Regions from separate parts of the Homo sapiens genome. Here region 1 is linked to region 2. The links come from fine-mapping of genetic effects on gene expression. A gene starts in region 2. The other region holds a variant in brackets. All regions are shown on one strand. Distances are between the middles of the regions.

Region 1 (3,020 bases), 170 kb before region 2:
AATACTTTAACAATTAAAAAGAAAAAAATGTTTTTTGTTTGCCAAGGACTCAGGAAAATAAAAAGCATTTTCTATTTTTAGGACAAATCACAAATGAAGTGTCTAACTGGCTATTACTGTTTACCCATATAAAATATGCTGCTAAAGTACATATTTTGCTGTCAATGGCTTGACAATTTTTTTTTTCAAATTTGGACATGAGAGGTTATATAGGGACTATATTATCCAACACATATTTTCTTATTTTGCCACAAATTTCCACTTAACAAATAAAAAAAGGCGAATGCTGTTTTGCAATCAGAAAGTGAATTTCTTTTGTGGTAGCGTACACGTGGTTCATGTGGTTCTCCACGTTTAAGCACAAACCACAGCACAGGAAGCCACACCCCCTCCAGCATCTCTGTCTTGTGGGGTCTTTGAGGAGAAGGAATCAGAACATCGACACCTGGGAAGAGGGAGGCGGGGAACACCAGCTGGACTCTGGCCAAGGAGTGATGTAAGCAGGTGACACTTGGCTGTCAGCTGAGCTTCTCAGGTGCTTCTGACATTGCCAGCCCCTTGAGATGAGCCACCGCAGGTGTGCTCACCTTGGCTACATGTTGAAATCATCCAGAGGAGTTGGGAAATCTACTGATGCCCCGCTGTGCCTCCCAGACCGATTAAGTCAGAACCTCTGGGAGGTGGGTCGCAGGCATCAGTGCGTGCCCGAGGCCTCCGCGTGTTTGGGTGTGCAGCCGAGGTGGTGAGCTGTCGAGCCACAGTGCAGTTCTCTTCTCACCAAAGCTCAAATGAGAATCAGCTTCCATGTTCTTTCCTTTACCAGAAATTTGCAATAAAAAGAAAAATAAAATTTTCACATAAATGTGGTGTATGATTTTTAAATTGAAAAGTCTTTCAGTGTTGAGCTGAAGACTTAATTAGGTAAAATGCCATAGGAAATATTTCTGTTTGCTCTCTGTGGAAACGCTTTGATGGTTGAAATAAAGTGCTCAAGTCCTGGCAGCTCCTCTGACGACTGGAATGTCATTGGGAGCTGCTGGTCTGTGGGCTTCGGGGCTGTAGGGCCTTCTCTGCAGCCTTCTTGTCTCTTGGCAGTTCTCGGGTGTGTGCTGTGTGCCTGTGCTGTGTCCCCTGTGTATGTCAACTCTTTTCATTTTAACTAGTTGAGTTCAATACCATTTCCCCATTTTACAGATGAGAAAACAGAGTCACCTAAAGGTTAAGCAACTTGCCCCAAGTCCTATAGCTGATAAATGGGAGCCATGATTCAAGCCAGGCCGCCTACTTCCGCACTCTGGGAGCCTTACCAGCATACCACACTACCTCCGAAGACATTTTGGCTTCCCACATAAGTGACTTGCTAGGCCACTGACATCAGCCATATCTATATGAGCTTGGCCTCCTGCCATCTGACTACCCTCGCTTTTTAATGCCCCGATTCCAAATACGTAATGAGGCAATCTAATTAGCTTGTCAAACGTCTTCCCCTGGCTGTATCAATGTGGAGGCACCAGAGGTGGGGGGCAGTTGGTGCCACAGGACTTGTAGGATCACAGGCATTTCATCCCCTGCACTTGGGCTGTCCTAGGTCGTGGTCCCTGGCTGGCTCTGCACATCGGGAGATGGATTGTGTAGGGGAGTGTAGAGCAGAACAGAGAAGATGGCTCCGTTCAAGTTGTAATTATCCCACTAGGCTTTCAGGGGGAAAAAGAATCACAAAGCACTGTGACATCAGTCCCTTGCTCTGCCACACAGCCCTCCTGACAGGTTGTTTACAACACAGCAGCTTGCTTCC[A/C]CCAGTACCAGTGAGAGAGAGGGTGAACGGGAAGGAAGCTAGTCTTTTGTAACCTAATCTCAGAAGTGACAAGCCACCACTTCCACTAGTCTCTTCATGAAAAGCAAGTCCAGCACACACACAGCGGGAGGGGATCACACAAGGGGCTGAACACCTGGGGATGGGGTCACTGGGGGACATTTTACCGACTTCCTGCTCCAGCCGGAATCTGGACTCTGAGTCTCAGTCAGGTGGGCCTGCAGTGCAGTGTCTACTCTATAAAAGGATACTGCTGAGGTCCTTTAGCTCTGGATTTATAGGGACGACAAAATAACTTTTTGAGATGAACTGAACCAAAAATGGCCCAAGATGAATTGACAATTTCCAATAGACATGTGAGGGAGCTTAGAAGTGGAGCTCCCTACCCAAAAGAAATGAAAGTGGGGAATCGGGTATGTGTACATGTGGGCATGGTGGCTTACGCCTGTAATCCCAACACTTTGGGAGGCTGAGGTGGGCGGATCACCTGAGGTCAGGAGTTCAAGACCAGCCTGGCCAACATGGTGAAACCCCCATCTCTACAAAAAACACAAAAATTAGCCGGGCGTGGTGGCACATGTCTGTAATCCCAGCTACTCGGGAGGCTGAGGCAGGAGAATTGCCTGAACCTGGGAGGCAGAGGTTGCAGTGAGCCGAGATCACGCCACTGCACTCCAGCCTGGGCAGCAGAGTGAGAGTCTGTCTCAAAAAAAAAAAGAAAAGAAGTGAAAACTCTCAGGCTCCACCAAGACCTACTGAATCAGAGGCTCTGAGACGGACGCACCAAATTGCTTCAAGTCCTGCAGGTGATTGTAATGTAAAATCTGAGGCTTGCTGCACTAATAAGTAGCCACTAATTACATGGATTTTTTTTTAACAGTCAAGAGGTCCTTAATTTTTTGGCACCTATTGTGCCATAAATTCATAGGGAACAGGTTCCAGCAGCTCAGGCCCTCTTCTGTTGGTTCACTAAGTGTGCTTCTCTGCGTAGAGCAGGCTGGTGCTTCAGCGGAACCCAGGTACGTTTCTCTTTGGGTTCCTTCGTTTTCTGATCGTTTTCCTTCCGCGTTTAGGAAACTATCTTGGCTCTTTAAGTACTTCATATGCTCAACATATACAGTAATTCTCTTGGCTAGAATATTGTTTGTTTACAGAAATGCCAATAGCATGCTGGGTAGCACTGTAGACTTCCAGCTTTGCCATGGTA
Region 2 (2,735 bases):
TTCTACAATTGCAGAGATTCCTATAAAATGTTAGAAAAACTACATTTAATTGAAAATACGAAATCAGGTATTAGGTGAAATAGAGATCCTAATCAAGAGAAGGTGAGAATGAAAAAAGCAACACTAAAATGCAATCACATAGTTTATTCAATTAAATAAATAGGAGGCACCGTAACTATCTTGATGCAACACCGGAAAAGCTGTTTCGTCAAAGAGCTCACAAGACACAGACAAGTAACTCTCCAGCGGCATGAAATGCATCCAGAAATCCAAACCATTTTGCCAGGTATTTAAACAGAAAGGGTTGTGTCTAGATTCACGCGGGGACTCGGCTTTTGACGTACACACTCTGTATTTGGTTTAGCGTACTAGGGAAGATCTATTAAAGCCCTGATTACTTATGCTGCTTCCGTGTCTATTCCCCGCGGTTACGAGGCATACCAGAAGTCCAAGTTTCTTTGTTCTGTACCAGGACGGACGCTGGTCATAAATACTGAACCATCGTAGCCCAGCCACTTCACCCACACCAGGGTAAAAGGGTGGGGGAGCGGAGGAGGGGCAAGGTTCCATCCCGAGCACAACTACCAGAAACGGAAAAGCGACGGGGTGGGGGGCCAAACTGCCAAATACAAACAGGACCCAAGCCAAGGGCGGGGACCTAAGCAGGGCGGGGATCCAGGAAGCACCTCCCGAGCAGGTTCTATGGCTCCCCCTACCAAGGGTAACTCTCTGGGTTTCCTCTCCCCGGACGTCGTGGGCACGCGCCCGACAGACTTTCGCCCCTAGGCCGGTTCCCAGTCCAGCTCCGGAGCCACCGTGCCGAGTTCTCCCAGGCCGCACTCACCCCGGAGGAAGCCTTGGCCCCCTCGTCCTCTTCGCCCCTCCAGGCCGGCGACGTGGGGCTGACGGCCAGGTCGCAAAAAGCAGGGCCGAGCGGAGCCCGCTCCCCTCGGTCGGCGGTGGAGACCCCGGCCCAATCCCCCGGCCGCAGCGGTACGGCGTCGGCGGCAGCAGCTGACCCGGACACAGTGAGAAGCCCCGGCGGAAGTGATAACATCCCGACCTCCTCCGGGCGCGGCAGCCGGCGGTGGAGGCGGCGGGGGCGTGGCGGCGGCGGAGGCGTGGCGTCTTCTTGAAACCCACACAGCATCCCCCCAACCCCCTCAGACGTCACGGGCTAGCGCTCGCGCCTGCACTCGCGGGGTCGGCCTTCCTTGCCTGTGGGCGGACCCGTCGCGTCGACTCCTTATTGGTGGCGTTACTACGCCTCAAGGCGTTTCTTCCCTCTTTGCTGTTCGCAGGGACGCTGCCTGGTAGTTTCAGTTACTTTTGTTTTCTTTCTGCCTGCCTTTATTGATCATTACAGTAGGTGAAATTATCGATATCAATAATAATATTGTAATACAATAGGTGCAATTATCAATATCAATATTATTACAACAGGTGCAATTATCAGTATCATTACAATAGGTGCAATTATCAGCGATCAATAATGTGAATTATAAAATGGATGAAATAAGGGGAGGAGGTCGGGCGCGGTGGTTTACGCTTGTAATCCCAGCACTTTGGGAGGGCGAGGCGGGTGGATTACCGGAGGTCAAGAGCTCGAGACCAGCCTGGCCAACATGGTGACACCTCGTCTCTACTAAACAAACAAAAATTAGCTGGGCGTGGTGGCGCGCGTCTGTAATCCCAACTACTCAGGAGGCGAGGGCGGAGGCGGAGGCGGAGTTGGAGTTTGCAGTGAGCCGAGATCGTGCCATTGCACTCCAGCTTGGGCAACAGAGCAAAAACTCCGTCTCAAATAAAAGGAAAAAGGAAAAAAAAAAAAAAAGAAAAAGAAAAAAAAGAAATAAGGCGAGGAAAAATATCCGAGGCATCATTTTGGGGAGTTAGGCCTCAGAAGCGACCTTAGAGTTTGGTAATATTTGAGTGTGAAAAGCTTTACAGCAGTGCTTCTCTTCACTGGGGGAACGGTCGGTTTATTTTTTTCAATTTTCAATTAGTTTTTGACAAGTTAATAAAACAGAAAAATGAAAAGACATACAAAGTCCAAGTCAAAACTTTTTATCGTTAGAGTTAACAGCCATAAAATTACCTGCAAAATTGACATAGAGTTTTCTACTCTCTCTCTGTGAACCATTTGCAAACAGTTCTCAGAAGAGCCCAGGTCTATAGACCATGGTTAGAGTACTCAAGGTAAACTACTCAAATTAGACCATACTCAGCTGTAGAGTTTCAACCAAATGAGATTTGTTTGGAGAACATCATAGTCTCTCTCAGTTGGGCGTGCTGGCTCATGACTGTAATCCCAGCACTTTGAGAGGCCGAGTCGGTAGATCGCCAGACCTCAGGGCAACATGGCGAGACCCCATCTCTTAAAAAAAAAAAAAAAAAAAGAGACAGAGAAAGAAAGAAAGAAAAAGAAGCAAAGAGAAAGAAAGGAAGAAAGAAAGAAAAGAAGAAAATTAGGTGGGCTTGGTGGCATGCACCTGTGGTCCCAGCCACTTGGGAGGCTGAGGTGGGAGACTCTCTGGAGCCTGGCAGGCGGCGGTTGTAGTGAGCCAAGATCGCGCCACTCCACTCCAGCCTGGGTGACAGCGAAACCCTGTCTTAAAAAAAAAAAAAAGTCCCTTTCCAAAGTTTCATCTGATAAATCCATAGAAAGGCTCAGCATCAAGTATTTGGGTGATTCCATTGGGGTACGATCAGGCCTGAGGGGAACAGAAAAGCTC

What was found. PIP is the estimated chance that this variant, and not a neighbour inherited with it, causes the effect.
Region 1: its variant is fine-mapped to the expression of BNIP2 in whole blood (INTERVAL, PIP above 0.99).

What each region holds. Positions count from the first base shown.
Region 1 is chr15:59,522,694-59,525,713 of GRCh38, forward strand. FAM81A (family with sequence similarity 81 member A) reads left to right here. Exons shown (of 9, transcript NM_152450.3): 9 at 1-862. It also overlaps the pseudogene RPL21P114. Among named protein-coding and RNA genes, the nearest start is that of FAM81A, 86 kb to the left of the region's middle. The variant A/C (reference allele first, on the strand shown) is at 1,796.
Region 2 is chr15:59,688,291-59,691,025 of GRCh38, forward strand. BNIP2 (BCL2 interacting protein 2) reads right to left here and starts at 1,030. Exons shown (of 10, transcript NM_004330.4): 1 at 845-1,030. RefSeq lists an enhancer at 736-1,384 and a silencer at 798-1,307.